Regions from separate parts of the Homo sapiens genome. Here region 1 is linked to region 2. A link means that fine-mapping ties the variant in region 2 to the expression of a gene that starts in the linked region. Tissue or cell type: putamen. Region 2 holds a variant in brackets; the other region holds the start of a gene. All regions are shown on one strand. Distances are between the middles of the regions.

Region 1 (8,338 bases), 22 kb before region 2:
TCCACTGCAGAGGTGGCTTCCAAAGCCTCTGAGGTCAGCAGTGTGGTTGTAGCTCTCCTCTACCCACCACATGATCTCTCCCCATCTCCAGCTTTTCTTGCCTTATTTTCTTTATCTTTTTATTTCCCCCCCTTCCTTTCTGATTGTTCTATTTGTTTTCAATTTTCTTAATCCATTTTTCTCTTCACATTGCCCAATGGTGTAAGCCACCTGCACTGCATAAGACTCTGCCTGCACTGCCAGGCCCACTGATGGGCCAAGGGTTTTACCTGCTGACCTTTTCTCTGGAAAATTTCCCTTTAACAGCTTCTCCCAAGAAGGCTTAAGTCTAGTCTTGGCATTTGTTATTTACCATTTCAGGGGGAACAGTCTTAAGCTTTTAAAGGAACATTATGCTGGGCAGCGTGGTGGTTCACACCTATAATCCCAGCACTTTGGGAGGCTGAGGTGGACAGATCACTTGAGGCCAGGAGTTGGAGACCAGCCTGGCCAACATGGCGAAACCCCGTCTCTACTAAAAATACAAAAAAAAAATTAGCCAGGCGTGGTGGTGCACGACTGTAGTCCCAGCTAGGGAGGCCAAGACATGAGAATCGCTTGAACCTGGGAAGTGAAGATTGCAATGAACCAAGGTCATGCCACTGCACTCCAGCCTGGGTGACAGAGTACGACTCTGTCTCAAAAAAAAAAAAAAAAAAAAAAAAAAAAAAGGAACATTATGCTGTAGTAGAATTCGTAAGAAACATTGATTTTCTTTTCCATTCAACAAACACTATTTTCAAACACCTGCATTAGATGCTGAAGCAACAGCAGTCAAACACCTGCATTAGATGCTGAAGCAACAGCAGAAACAAGATGGACAAGGTCCCTGCTCTCATAGAGCTTGAATTCTAGTGGAGAGAAACATACAAGTAAATAAACAGATAAATAAGACAGTGTCAAGCGGTGACGCATGCTATGCATAAAAGAAAACAGCAGAAATGGGTCATGAGGGAGAGCATTTTTGCTGACATTTGAAGAATAAAAAGGAACAAAAAGATGAGTGTACCAGGCGTGAGTACCAGGCTTGCAAGTAAAAGGCCTGAAGATGCAAATGAGCTTGGTGCATTTAAGGAACAGAAAGATTTGGAAGGTAAATTAGCAAGGCAGAATATTACTTGAGATGAAGGCAGAGAGTTAAGGAGGGGCCAGATCTCGTGGGTCCCTGTGGACCTAAGAGTTTGGACTTTTTAAGTGAAATGAGAAGTCATTGGAGGGTTTTAAGCAGGGGAGGAACATTATCTAATTTATGTCCTAACATGCATAGTAGACACCTGATAAATGTGTCCAAAGTTGACTGTAGGAATAGACTCAAACTACACAACTACTCCCTTGCATGTCTTGGGGACTGCAGCCTTCTAGGTGACATACTCCCTTCTAAGTGAGCTTTTCCTAAGGTAGGGGTCTCCAACCAGTCTATGGCCCCTTAGGAACCAGGCCACACAGCAGGAAGTGAGCAGCTGGTGAGCAAGTGTTCCCTCCTGAGCTCTGCCTCCTATCAGATCAGCTGCGCATTAGATTCTCAGAGGAGCAAGAATCCTAAAGTGAACTGTGCATGCGAGCTCCTTATGAGAATCTAATGCCTGATGATCTGAGTTGGAGCAGTTTCATCCTGAAACCATCCCCACCCCCTGCCCCCACTCCGTGGAAAAATTATCTTCCACAAAACCAGTCCCTGGTGCCAAAAAGGTTAGGGACCACTCCCCTAAGGGATGGAAATAGCCATGAATGGTATGTGTACTGAGAGAGAGAGAGAGAGAGAGAGATAGCTAGAGAGAGAGAGAGAGAGAGTGTGTGTGTGTGTGTTTGGGGTGTCTTACTTAGAGAACTTCAAAATAATTCTGAAAATACGTAGAGAAATTGTCATATCGCCCATGTTCTCTTTTTAGACCCAACTATAATTAGACTTCCCCAAAGATTCACTCAGGCATTTACTTAATAGTTGATCAAGTTTTCTGTTTTCCTGAGGGTTTGTATCGCGGGAAGTGGCTGATAGCTGTAGGCCTCCACCTCTGTCCAGCCCCATGCCTGCAGGTATTTATTTGTGACCTAAGTCACGGGTGGACACCAGGCCAGAGTTAGACAAGAGGCGGTCCCTGCCTTCAAGGGGCTCCAGGCAAAGCAGAGGACTCTCAGTCACTTATTCTTGGGTACTCCACTCCAGGAACTGTGCCCATGGCCTGGCATCATGAATCTGCTCATGCAATTAGACTCCTATCTCAGGGAATTTTGAGTTTAAAAGATCCTTAGACATCATCTGTCCCAGTACTCCCCAGTAGGAGCACTTCTGGTATTTTGGGTGGGACTGTCATAAGCACCATAGGAAATTTCCCATTCCTGGCCCCACCCACTGAATGCTACAGGCCCCTGCCCCCACCATTCCCACTCACTGCTCACCACCCCCAACAGCTACCTGAGTTGAAAATTACTCATCTAGCCCAGTTCCATCACTTTACAGGTAAGGCAATGTTAGACAACATACGTTCTTTTCATGCCTCTGGCCTCTGATCCTAGCAGAATCAGGACCCAACATTCAGATTTTACAATGAAGCTAGTTTCTGAAATATGCCTCTCTTTTAAATTCTTTGACTGTTACTGTTTTCTCAGAGTTATATACTATGTGTTGCATATGTAAGTCTGAACCTTTAAGATGGGTTAAGAAAAAATTATGAGCATTTTCAGATCGTTCTATACATAACTCAAGGTTTTGATAAAATGTTTTCTACATGTATTCCATTGCCATCCACCTCTTGAGTTCTTTAATAATGAGAAATCTGACTTTCTTCCTTCCACCCTCTTTATCTCTATGCTTTTGTCAAGCATCTTCTAGGAGAGTTACTGTTATCCCATTAAGTGTGGGGGACAGAAACATTTGGCATAGAAAGCTATGGATCTGCAGCTGACTTAAGCTGTATATTATTACCCTGACTTGGGCACCAAAATCACGTTTCAAAACTCATTTGCTGCCAAGTATGGTAGCTCAAGCCTGTAATCCCAGCAATCTGGGAAGCTAAGATGGAAGGATCACTTTGAAGCTAGGAGTGCAAGACCAGGCTGGGCAACAAAGCAAGATCCCATCTCTACCAAATATAAAAATAAAATAAATTAGCCAGGTGCAGTGGCATATGCCTGTAGTCTCAGCTACTCAGGAGGCTGAGGCTGGAGGATTGCTCGAACCCAGGAGGTCAGGGCCACAGGGAGCTATGATTACGCCACTGCACTCCAGCCTAAGTGACAGCAAGACTGTCTCTCTAAAAAAAAAGAAATAAATAAAACAAAACCAAAAAAAGAACCTCATTTGCCTTCATACACCTGACCTGCTCTCTTTACCTGCATTTGTAACTTTCTCCCCACACACTTGAATGCCCTGTAAATGAGAAGAAGCCCTTAGCCTAATGAAGCGATAAGGTAAGGTAGGTAAGAGCTTTTCTTTCTTGAGTGACTCTTTTCCCTATTACTCAATGGAATAGTCAGTATTTACAGTGATACTTTCAAATATAATTTTCCTAAAGGAATCTCAAGTTCCATGAACAGTTATTTTTGTGGGAATATCTAGAATAAAGTTGGACTCTTCACTGAGTGGAGGTGCTCATCTCCTCTTGTCACTGTACCAAATAGCTGTGTATTACACCTTGTGGGGAGGAGAAACATTTAATTTTTTTTAATTTAGGTTTTTTTTCTTGCTTGCTTCTTAAGCAAAACCAATCTAGTTTCTTTTTCTGCAGCAAAGGAGGAAGGAACAACAAACAACAAATTAATCAGACAGGAAGCGAATAACCACAGAAGGACGTCTGCCTCTGACTCAGTATGTCACATTTAACAAGAGGCCAGAGCTTGTCCAAAATGGCTGTCCAAAAACGACCCCACACTTGCGTTAGAAGATGATACCTTTTTCAGGGACAGTTTTCTCTCTTGGCTCCTGTCCCGCTGGCCCTCTGTCTGCCTGTGTCCCTGACCATGGCTCCCTGCAGTACCCTTTAACGGTAAGAAAAATTATATTCAAACTAAGTTTATTTCATTTATCAGCTACAGGGAAGAACTAAATGGCTTTTAATGGACCATAGTATGTCAAGATAAAGTTGTTTAATTTTTCTGTAGAGCACCATGTGAGCTATTCCTGTTGCCCAGAATGCTAGTTTCACCACTATGGTGATTGTGAATGATTCATAACTTATGCTTTGAGCCAAAATGTAAGCAAGATTTTCAATAGAATTTTTTTGACCACTGGACAAGTTTGGATCCACAGGAATTTATTTTCCCATTTAAATTGGGGGCTTATGTCGGTAAATATATCCTTTTGGTGTATGATACAGTTGTCCACACAACTGCCTTTGAATCTTTGGTGTGGCCAGCAACAATAAGTGCTTTAAAGTACAAGGAGCCATTGGAAGCTTCAAACGAAAATACCATGGAACTAAGCTGTTGCAGTTCTGTTGCTGCCAATGTGCTATTTAAGTTCAAAACTCAAACTAAACCATTTCTAAGCAGAGTCTTTTATAATACGATTTGTCTTTTAGAATAAGTCTATTCCTGTTATAACAGTGTGTGCACAATTACTATCGCAAATCAAATTCTACAGCATTAGTTATAACTTTATGTTTAATATGATTAATGTTTTGGCATAAAATATTGTGATTTTTAAAATTTCAAGCCATCTACTCAGAGGCTTATAGAGCAGAACTAAGGAAACTTTTTACATTAAAAAACTTTTTTCTAGAATATGTAGGAAGAAACAATTTGACTTATGTTCCTTTCTCCCCGTGAAGAAATATAAAATAAAGCTTTAAAAAACTCAGAAGGCACATATAACTTTAGTCACTAAGTACAAGTTTTTTGTTTTTTTTGTTTTTGTATTTTTAGTAGAGACAGGGTTTCATCATGTTGGTCAGGCTGGTCTCAAACTCCTGACCTCAAGTGATCTGCCCGCCTCGGCCTCCCAAAGTGCTGGGATTACAGGCATACAAGTTATTTTAAATAATTTAATGGCATAACTAGTATATGTAGTAGAGAATGGAGAGGTGGTAAATGAAAAGGCTACTGAAAGATTCTAACTAAGCAAAGTAAGACAGCTTGGTAGAGAGAAAGATGAAAGACTGGGGAAAGAATAGGACAGGACAGTGAGAAAGGAAGATGAGAAACTGGGAAAAGGTTTTGAGGTTGATCTGTGTGGAAATCATACTCTTACAATTCACTTGGACTACAGTGCTATGTGTTAACTTTATCAAGCTTTGTTCTTCTGTACTGGAATATCATCATGTCAAAACTCTTCCTTTTATCAGTCTAAGGTCATTAAATGACTTACCTGAAAGTCATTTTTCACTAAGTCAGGTTTTCTATTGCTCTTTGAAAAGTTTATTCATGGGCTATTTGCTCATAGCGCTTCAGCTACTCTAATATCTAACCTTTTAAGGGTTACACATACTCTGGGTGGACTGAAATATTCAGAGAACTCCCTGTGGTGAAAATTAGTTCCTGGGATCGAGCAGCAACTTCAGATCTGATCAAATTCTAAATCTGGCCTGTAGGCTGGAAGTTCCCCAGCCTACCTAAAATATGAGATGAAGTGATACTGAATTCCTGGACCCTTTAAGTGTTATGACCTTTTGAAGCCTTCTTAACATTTTATGAACACACATCATTTACTTTGGAAGTTTCTGGCTGTTTAAATTATGATATATTTCTGCTTTAAGGTTTGACTCATTTTGTCCAAATTGTTAAACATGTGCTTGTTGTTGAAGAAAGCATTTCTCCTGGACTTCCATAAATACCTCTGTCTGTCCTGAAAATTAAAACTGTAAAAAAATACTAGAATAAGGAATGCCTTAATCAGTATGCTTTTCTGAGAAATTTGAAATGCACTTTATACACATCTCCCTTCACCATTCACTTGTAATATGGAAGTTTGCATGGGTGTACACACATAGGCTGATTTAAATCAGCTCATGGTTTCTCTTTCTCGTGGTTAAATAGGGGGAAAGACTGTGATATTTACTGACCACTTATTTTGTGTTACGTTCTTCACCTTTGCTTATTTTATTTTTTGAAAATGGCTAATACTTATTAAGCACTCCTTCATTTAACTCTTGAATAACCCTACTAAGTAGGTGCTATTATTTTGAAAACCGGACTTACATAAGCTAAGTAATTTACCCAAGGCCACCTAACAACTAAATGTGGAGGAAGTTATCTGAATTGTAAGAGCTTTTTTTCACAAGTGCAGCTTGGAAGCAACATTATAAATTGTATGATTTCTGTTTTTCTTTTTCTTTTCTGTTTTTTTTTTTTTTTTTTTTGAGACAGGGTTTTGCTCTGTCATCCACACTGGAGTGCAATGGCATGATCACAGCTCACTGCACCCTCAAACTCCTGGACTCAAGCAGTCCTCCCACCTCAGCCTCCCAAGTAGCTGGAACTACAGATGTGTGCCACCATGCCCAGTTAATTATATATATATATATATATATATATATATATTTTTTTTTTTTTTTTTTTTTTGTAGAGATGAGGGTCCCACTATGTTTGCCCAGGATGGTCTCAAACTCTTGGGCTCAAGCTATCTTCCCACCCTGGCCTCCCAGAGTGCTGGGATTATAGTCATGAGCTACGACACCCAGCCAGTATGATTTCTTGAGGTGCTTTTCCGGCCTTGGGAATCTGAGATTACAAATGTTTTGCTTTAAATGTCACAGCAACAGTAAATATCTTTAAAACTAACAATCTCAAGTAAGATATTTTCCTTTTTAAGTCTTTTCACTTCTTCAGAGGTAAACTTGGTGACACTTCTGCTTATATCATAAAGCTGTACTTTCAATGATAAAATGAATACAGTATATATCAAGTGTGCTGACATATATGCTGTGTGTGTATGTGTGTGTGAGAGAGAGAGAGAGAGAAAGAGAGAGAGAGAAACAGTGGCACATCTTAATCCTCTGGTAGAACTAAATGTGGTGATAGCGATTTAGGCAGATTTTAGCTTGGAGATTTGAACCCCTTAAAGAGATGGGAAGTATGGGAGAAAACCTGCTACTCTTTAATTATATGGATAAAATAAAAATGTTTCCTTTCCCTTTCCTTCAGTTAAATAATGACAGGTAGGCGTGTCATTCAGCTCACCTTCATTTTCTCACTATTAAAAGGGTCTTCGATGTCTGTGAATTTGTATTAATTTTAAAATTAAATGTGCACAATAGTGGATTAAAAAATAATTTTACTTCATAGCAACCTTTATTTCCCTAGCAGTACTCTTGCAGTAAAATTGTGTCCAAGCTCCTAGCCAGTCTTAGTGATGTTCGAGATGCTTCAAAATGTCTTCTTTGAAAAACACCTTTCCTACTCCCCGCCAAAATAAATCACCTCCTTATCTAAAAGAACTATAAAAGAAGCATTTCTAGGTTCAGCAGACTTAAATTGACATTTACCATTAAGAAGACAACCTAATCAGACGTTGCTGAAGTATTGTTTTTCAATGATGATTGACTGAGAAAAGAGCAGTACATTTTGAGAAATGAGGGATTCTGTGTATGGCAAGCGTGTGCTCCACATTCAGCTCAAATGGAGACTAACAATGCATAAGAACCAACTGGGTGAGGCTGCTGATTTGCTAATAAAGCTGTTTTCCTCTTCTCTGCCTTTTGCTTCCTCTGGAGTCCAGCTGCCTTTTCTGTTTCCCCTCTTGTATCCATGGCTTATTGCTCTGAGCAAGGACCTTCAGCTTGGAGAGAGGAAGAGTAGCAATAATAGAAACGAACCTTTCTGCAAAGGTATTGAAAGTTTCTAAAATGGCCAGACCACATGCTGGGGGGAAGGGATGGTAGAGCTGTTGCAGTGACTCGCGTCATAAAATAGAAACTCCAGGCAACTGCAGCTGTGAAAAGATTGTGTTAAAGAAACAGGATGACTGTGGTTTACTGCGAGCATCAATTTTCCTGTTGAGCATTTTTTACAGGAAGTTGAAGAACAAAGCCAAATTCATCTTAATTAGTTCTAATGGTTTTCAGATCTTAAATACATCCAGCTAAGTTTGCATCATGGAGGAGTATCTAAAGAATAGAATCAAGAATAATTGAGTAGGAATCCCAAAACGACATGCTTTTTAAAATTCACCGTCTTAGCAGCAATTTGAGTTTGCTCGATGATTTTATTTTTGCAGGGTGACTTGGAGTGGATTCACTGTCTTTGTAATGAATGCCCTTGCAGTTATTTTTTATGGTTGTAATAACTCAATATGAATTTAAAAACCTTTTCTCAGGAAAACACTTTTGTGTTACATGTATTATAAATTTTGTTCTGTTAATATTTT
Region 2 (8,338 bases):
GTTACGGTGAGCTGAGATTGTGCCACTGCACTCCAGCCTGGGCAACAGAGCAAGACTCTGTCTCAAAAAAAAAAAAGGAACTAAGGTATTTAACTCTTGACACAGTCTGACTTGTAAGTCAAAATGCCCACAAAACGAATGTGGTTATAATATATTCCCTCTAATCCCTCAGCCCTCCAAGCCCTCCAATAGCCATCTGAATCATGGTCCCTGGTATGAGGCCAGAGGAGCTGACCTCTAGGACAGAGGCCTGTGGTTCTCCTCACTGCAAGAGGGAGCCTAGGGCTCTGTTGAAGGAGGCTGGACAGTCTAGACCTATTCCTGAATCCACTAGTGGAAACCTTGAAGAATTGTATTCTTCAATGTCCACTTCTCTTATTTAATGGAAATAGTGTTAGTCCTTCTCTCTTCCATGATGTTTAATAATGTGCTTTCCTTGATGGAAGGAAGATACAGTCCAGTGCAGGCCCTTGTCCACACACTCAACTGGACACCTATACTGCTGTCACAAGCTCTTTGCAAGCAGCAGTGTTTATCCACAGTTTTGTATCTGTTTGCATGTGAAACTTCCCTGGGCTGTATGTCAAAATGTTGACCATGGTTATGTGTGATAACTCAGCCCTGTCCTACAGTTTAATTACTGAAAAAATAATCTGAAAGCTTAATCCTCAGCTTTAGCTTCTCTTTCTGAAAGATGGACAGATGTTGCAGGTTAAGAACACTAATGGGCCAGGCACAGTGGCTCACACCTGTAATCCCAGCACTTTGGGAGGCTGAGGCAAGTCGATCACCTGAGGCTGGGATCACCTGAGGCATGGAGAAACCCCATCTCTATTAAAAATACAAAATTAGCCGGGTGTGGTGGCGCATGCCTGTAATCCCAGCTATTTGGAAGGCTGAGGCAGGAGAATCGCTTGAACCCAGGAGGCAGAGGTTGCAGTGAGCCAAGATCGTGCCATTGTACTCCAGCCTGGGCAACAAGCGTGAAACTCCATCTCAAAAAAACAAAAAAAAGAACAGTAATGGGTGATGTCTGATAGTGCAGGAGTCCCTCTAAAGTTTCAGTACCATGTAAACGTGTCCTGTGAAGTGCAGTATTCCAAAATGTGTCATTCATCAATGAATAGTGTTTGAATGACAAGGGCGATGTTAATAGCAAAATTTTTAAATTTTATATGGAAACAATTTTGCATACACTTCTAGAAATTGTTAGTCTTATATGATTTATCCTGTTAGGTGAAGTAATTCTTGTCAGTTATTATCAGATTATTTCTTCCACAGCAGAGCTACCATAAGCATCTCAGAAAGCTCCACATCTAGAAAAGATACAGAACTAACACAAATTTATGATAAACCTAATCCAGAAAATGGAAATAAAAATGAATAAAAGTGGAACTCAGAAAGCAGATAAAATAAGAGATTCAAAGCATATTTTCTAAAATTAAAGTAGTGTAATAAAGTTATCTGCTAAAATGTTTTAAGATATTAAAGAAAGTACTTTTCTAAGAAAAGCATATATTTATTCAGGAAACCTCAATGAGCAAGGGAAAAGATAAAAACTTTATTAAATTACTTTCTCTCCAAAAAGTTTTGGAGCCAGATTATTTTATTAGCAAATTCTTTCAAATTTTAAGAAACAGCTAATTCAAATGCTGTATAAGTCATTCCCCAATATATTAAGAGATGGAAGGCTGTCTAATAATTGTAATGAAATTGGCATGATCCTAATGTCAAAACTTGACAAAGGCAGCACATAAAAAAAGAAAGCTGTACATTAGTGGTTTTCAACTGAGGGTGATTTTTGCATTCCAGGGGATATGTGGCAATGTCTGAAGACATTTTTAGTCACTACTTTGGGGGACAGGGAGGGCTGCTACTGACATCTAGTGGGTAGAGGCCAGGGATGCTGTAAACATTCTGTAAAGAACAGGACAGGACAGCCACCCACAAAAAAGAATTATCTGTCCCAAAATGTTTATAATTAAGAAACCCTATTATGGACCACTTATCATCATAGATAAGAGAACACTAAAATACCAAAAAACAAATCTAAATCAATCAGATGTTACAAGAATAATTCACCAACACCAGGGTTTATCCCCCTTTTTTTTTTTTGGAGACAGGGTCTTGTCTTGTCACCCAGGCTGGAGTAATGGTATGAACACAGCTCACTGCATCCTTGACCTCCCAAGCTCAAGGGATCCTCCCACCTCAGCCTCCCAACTAGCTGGGACTACAGGCATGCACCACCACATTTGGCTCATTTTTTGTAGAGATGGGAATCTCACCATATTGCTCAGACTGGTCCTGAACTCCTGAGCTCAAGCAATCCACCCGCCTTGGCCTCCCAAAGTGTTGGGATTACAGGTGTGAGCCGTTGCACCTGGCCTATCCCATTTTTAATGTTAGAAAGTCTATCCATCATATCAAATAAAAAAGACCATCAAAAAGCCTCAGTAGATCTTGAATAGGCATTTGATAAAATTTCATGCTATAATAAATTCTTGTAAACCTAAAATAGAAGGATCCACAGACTGAATATTTAGAAAGGGAAAAAACCTATTTCAAACCAATAATTCATATTAACTTTGAAATATCAGAGGGATTCTCATTAATATCAGAACATGATTGCCTTTAGAAACGTTAATAATTTACATTGTTATGGAAATTTACCCATCAAAGTAATTACTTATATAAAACAGAAATAAGACATACAACTCTTAGAGAAGAGGAGGCTTTAAACTGTCATTATTTGAAGACCATGTGCATACTAGAAAATGCAAGATAATACATTTTTAGTAAATTTTATTTAGAAAACATAGCAAAGTGGCTTATTAGATATTAAATACAATTTCCTGGTGCCAAAAATAACCAATTACAAAATATAACAGGAAAAACATCCCTTTCACAATTTCAGCAAACAAAAATACATTTGAAGTAACCCTAACAAAAAGCATGTGTAATGTATATCATAAAAACTAAAAAACTTTGCCAAAAAATCCAGAAGACATAAATAAATGGGAAAATATACCACATCTCCAAATGGAAAGTCTAAATATCATAAAAGTATCAGTTCTCCCAGATTAATTTGTAGATTTCATATACTATTTATCAAAAACTCAACATAGTTTTTTGGGAAGAGGACTTTAAATAATGTTTAAGCTCATAAATACAAACATGCATACATACATAAATTAAGAGATAATTTTTTTAAAGAGGGTATAAGCATGGCTTAAACACAACTAATTTGCACTTCTTTGGACAAATACCATTGCATTAGTATCAGTTTTCTATGCCTTTCAGAGTGATAAGATACTGTGGCTCAAAGACAATGGAAAGTAACCCAGAAGACTAGACAGAATACTCAGTAATCTTTTTGTTTGTTTGTTTGTTTGCCTCCCATCAAAATCTTTCACAATTTTTTGCAGATAAATTCAAAATAAAACAAGATCTTTATACCCTCTCAAATTGCAAAGAATGTTTAAATTACTAAAGCCTACTATTGGGCTTCATGATATTAAAAAATTAATAGCAATCTAAAGGGCCATCAAATGAGTAGTTAAATAAATTTTAATGTAATACATTCATGTTCTACAATACAATAGAATCCTTTAAACTCATGTTTTCAAAGAGTATGACACAAGAAGTGCTAACAAAGTGTTAAATGAAAAAAGCAGGCTTAATACTGCTTAGTGAATTTGTTCTTAATTTTAAGAAAAAACACATAAAATGAAAAATACTGATGGGAAAAAGTATAACTCAATTGTGGATATTTGCTTAGTGTTTTTTTTTTTTTTTTTTTGCTGGAGTGCAGTGGTGCAATCATAGCTCACTGCAGCCTCAGTGGGTTCAAGTGATCCTCTCACTCAGCCTCTTAAGTAGCTGGGACTACAGGTGTGCACCACCATGCCTGGCTACATTTTGTTGTTGTTGTTTATTTTCGTAGAGACGAGGTCTCACTTTGTTGCCCAGGGTGGTCTCAAACTTCTGGGGCCTAAGCTATCCTCCAGTCTCAGCCTCCCAAAGTGCTGGTATTATAGGTGTGAGCCACTGTGCCTAGCCTGGATATTTGTATATTTGTGAAATTATGAGATATTTTATTTTCTTTTCTTTTTAACTCTTTCCTTTCTTCTCGCCTTTTATGGCATCTCCTCCTCCCTTGCGACCCTCTTTCTTTGAAGATCCTTTTTACTGAGACAGGGTCTCACTGTCACCCAGGCTGGAGTGCAGTGGCACAGTCTTGGCTCCCTGCAGTCTTGACCTCCCTGGCTCAAGCGATCCTCCCACCTCAGCCTCCCAAAGTGCTGAGATTACATGTGTGAGCCACTGCACCCAGCCTGAAGATCCTTCTATTTGCCAAATCTTAGGATACGGAACAAACAGATACTGACCCATGTGGCAGCCAGTCAAGTGGGGAGTGTGGGGACAAATCATCCTTTATTTT[C/T]GTTTCTTCCACCACTGGGCTTGGGACTGCCTGGAGCGGGCAGTTCTGACTGAGCTGAGGGAACTCTTAAAATCCTGCATTTTAATGAAGAAATCCCAGTTGTCCACTGGAGGCCGAGAGCCGGCCAGCTCCCTGTTGTACTGTTGTTTTATGGTTTACCTGGGCCAGACCAGGGGGCATAGTCTGTCGGGTGTCTCTTCTTCTACAGAACCTAAAGGAGCTGGTGCTGGAGGCGGTGGTGGTGGCTTTGGTGGAGGCGGCGGATTTGGCGGAGGAGGTGGTGGCGGAGGCGGTGGAAGTTTTGGAGGGGGCGGACCTCCAGGTCTGGGAGGATTGTTCCAGGCTGGAATGCCGAAGCTGAGATCCACGGCCAACAGGGATAATGGTAAGGAGAGTTTCCCTGTCTCTGAGTGACTGAAGACAAGGCAGAGTTTGGCAGTTTGGAGGCTGGTCATAGCCTCTAAGGCTCTTCGCCCTTATTAAAATATTGTACATTGTTTTAAATATTACCACTGTTTTATAAGAGACTCAATTTAGGCTTTATTATTATTATTAACCAGGATCAGACAGCTACACAGAACTATGAAATTTTCACCCAGTGTCTTTGGGGGTAACCTGTACATTTTTTTTTTTTTACTTTTCTAAAGGGTTAGCTGGAGTGGGAAGAAAAGGGAGGAGCAAATAGAACTTGCTGGCCCTGGAAATCTGCCTGGTGACCTGACAGATTCAGCTTTCTTTGTGAGGTAGCCCAGCTGTCTAGTAGAGTAAATACTTGTGAGCCGCTTTTCAAACACGATGGAGCACATCTTGTGGAATATGATTACAAATCTCACTAAATCTGAAAAAGTGTTTTGCATGACAGATATTTGGTATTTCAGTGCCAGTGGTTCTCAGGAGTCTCTGCAGGGAGCCATGGACATGAGTCCTTCAGGATTGTCTATGAACCTGATGGTAGAAAAAAACTGAACTTGCTCATGAATGCCTAGATAAAAAACTTTGCAGAGGGCATGAGGCTCTCTCCCAGCTACTACAGAAACTCAAGAAATTTTACCATAAAACTGCTTTTGTAATGTTGATCATGTTATAATAATTTTCATTTTTAGACCTTTTATAAGATGTCCCCTGGGAAAGAATGAAACTCTCACATTTACATGAATATGGAATCACTGAATCCTCAGGGTTAGCCTACTATTTTATCACTGAATGGTCCAAATCTAGAGAGAAACTCAGTCACATGAGAGGTTCTATCTTGCCAGACCACCATTTAAATTTGAATTTAAATTTATTTAAAACTCACCAAAAGGATTTAAGGCAGCTGATAAATGTATACATTTAGTACTTTAACAACAGGTGAAGAAATTAAGGCAAAAGACAAAGAAAAATAAAATAATAAAATGGGCCAGGCATGGTGGCTCACACCTATAATTCCAGCACTTTCACAGGTCAAGGCAGGCAGATGGCTGAAGCCCAAAAATTCAAGAACAGCCTGGGCAACATGGCAAAATCCTGTCTCTACTAAAAAAAAACAAAAAGTTAGTGGGCATGGTGGCTCTTGCCTGTAGTCGCAGCTACCCAGGAGGCGGAGGTGGGAGGATTGCCTGAGCCCAGGAAGTTGAAGCTGCAATGAGCCGTGATTGCACCACTGCACTCCAGCCTGGGCAACAGAGGAGGCACTGTCTCAAAAAAAAAAAAAAAAAGAAGAAGAAAGTTCTCTCTTAAGTTCATGATACTCCACTGTATACATCTGTCCAAATGCTTCTTCCTGTGCCTTAGATAAAATCGGAACCCCTTCTGTCCTGCAGGGCTCCTTGTGACTAACCCCTGCTGGCCACTCAGGCTCCACTTCCCATGGATCTCTCCCATTCTCACTGTGCCCCGGGCACATGGGCCCGTTTTTGAACTTGAAGCTCTTTCCCACCTCAGGGCCTCTGCACCTGCTGGCCAACCCTGCCCAAAGTGCTGGTCTTCCTCATCTTTCCGTGGCTGACTCCTTCTTGTCAGGCCTCAGCTCACATGTCACATTCTCAGAAGAGCTGTCCCCAGCCACTCCATGTACCCTGGCCTCTCCAAGCACTCTTGATCTCATCGGCCTATTTTAGTGTCTTTTTAGTACATATAATTATCTGAAAGTATTTATTTCCTGGTTTATTGTTTATCTCCCCCCACAAGAATGTAAACTACAGGAATGCAGAATCTTTTCTATTCTGTTTACTCCTCTGTCTCTAGTCTCTAGATTAATGGCAGGCGCATAGCAAGTGCTCAAAATTATTTGGTACACTTATTAACTCATAAATGGGTAGATTTTTTTTTTTTTTTTCAGAATTACCTTGAGTTCCAAGAGATTCTGGGATGGTGGTTTGAAATTTTCCATCTCTTTGGTTCCCCCTTTAGTTTCTCCCTTGTTGAACCAGAGCAGTTATGGGATTATTCTGTCCTGCCAATACTGAAGCAGAGGTTGACGTGGTACCAAAAAAAAGTTGTGTAGTTGCCTGCTTCTTTGTAGATGAATTCCATCCACTGGTGTCAACTCTTACAATTAAACTTTACTGATGGTTCTTTTTCCTTTCTTAGTTTTTTCTTATTGCAGTCATAACTCTTTTCTTATAATTTCCCCTTACAGTTTTCCACTTTTTTTGGGGCATTTCTCTTCATAGGGACTAGATAAGCCCTCACATTTGGAGATTTACATTGGGATAATTAATTTTTTCACCTAAGACAGCTGACTTAGTTTCAAAACTGAGAGGTACAAGGGCTGGGAGACAGAGATGGTGATGAGGAAAAATGAAAATCATGATTCTACCAATGCCATCTTGTTCTTGTCCTCTCATAATGAATAGGCATCTCACCAGAACTCTCGCCCACTTCATCCTGGCTCTTGCCTATACATAATGCTAAGAGATATTTGCAGAATCCTTTTGAAAGCTCATAGGCTGTAGAAGTTGGGACTCGCAGGTAAATAGAGCTATGGTCGATTTTCTGCTCCCAAGAAGGACCAACAAAACCCAATTTATATAAATAATAGTTTCCTGTATTTTATAGCCCTCTGAGGAAGGGACTTCCAGTCACTGGGAACAGACTCTAGCTCTCTGATTTCTTCAGGGTTCCTGATTTCCTAACTGATGTTTGTTTTCCTGTTCTTCAGATTCTGGAGGAAGCCGACCACCATTGTTGCCACCGGGAGGAAGATCCACATCTGCGAAACCCTTTTCACCCCCAAGTGGCCCAGGGAGGTTTCCTGTGCCTTCTCCAGGCCACAGAAGTGGTCCCCCAGAGCCTCAGAGGAACCGAATGCCGCCCCCAAGGCCCGACGTGGGCTCAAAGCCTGATAGCATTCCTCCTCCAGTACCTAGTACTCCAAGACCCATTCAATCAAGTCCGCACAACCGGGGGTCCCCACCAGTGCCCGGAGGCCCCAGGCAGCCCAGCCCCGGGCCCACTCCTCCCCCTTTCCCTGGAAACCGCGGCACTGCTTTGGGAGGAGGCTCAATACGTCAGTCCCCCTTGAGCTCCTCCTCGCCCTTCTCCAACCGGCCTCCCCTGCCGCCTACCCCCAGCAGGGCCTTGGATGACAAACCCCCTCCACCACCTCCTCCAGTGGGCAACAGGCCCTCCATCCACAGGGAAGCGGTTCCCCCTCCTCCTCCTCAGAACAACAAGCCTCCAGTGCCTTCCACTCCGCGGCCTTCGGCCTCCTCACAGGCCCCACCTCCGCCGCCACCTCCCAGCAGGCCCGGGCCGCCTCCTCTGCCTCCAAGTTCCAGCGGCAATGACGAAACCCCAAGACTCCCACAGCGGAATCTGTCCCTCAGTTCGTCCACGCCCCCGTTACCTTCGCCAGGACGTTCAGGTCCTCTTCCTCCCCCGCCCAGTGAGAGACCCCCACCTCCAGTGAGG

Direction of the effects. Alleles are on the strand shown, and positions count from the first base shown. SD is a standard deviation of normalised expression in the study named.
As copies of T replace C in region 2, the expression in putamen of the gene that starts at base 3,819 in region 1 goes down (small effect, 0.36 SD a copy in GTEx).

The links.
Region 1: it holds the start of WIPF1, and the variant in region 2 is fine-mapped to the expression of WIPF1 in putamen (GTEx, PIP 0.93).

The regions. Positions count from the first base shown.
Region 1 is chr2:174,593,285-174,601,622 of GRCh38, reverse strand. WIPF1 (WAS/WASL interacting protein family member 1) reads left to right here and starts at 3,819. Exons shown (of 8, transcript NM_001375834.1): 1 at 3,819-4,022. RefSeq lists an enhancer at 3,617-3,796.
Region 2 is chr2:174,571,695-174,580,032 of GRCh38, reverse strand. It overlaps WIPF1 (WAS/WASL interacting protein family member 1), which reads left to right. Exons shown (of 8, transcript NM_001375834.1): 4 at 4,653-4,829; 5 at 7,587-8,338. It overlaps WIPF1-AS1 (WIPF1 and CHRNA1 antisense RNA 1), which reads right to left and starts at 4,806. Exons shown (of 2, transcript NR_199010.1): 1 at 4,604-4,806. RefSeq lists a silencer at 1,849-1,958. The variant C/T (reference allele first, on the strand shown) is at 4,445.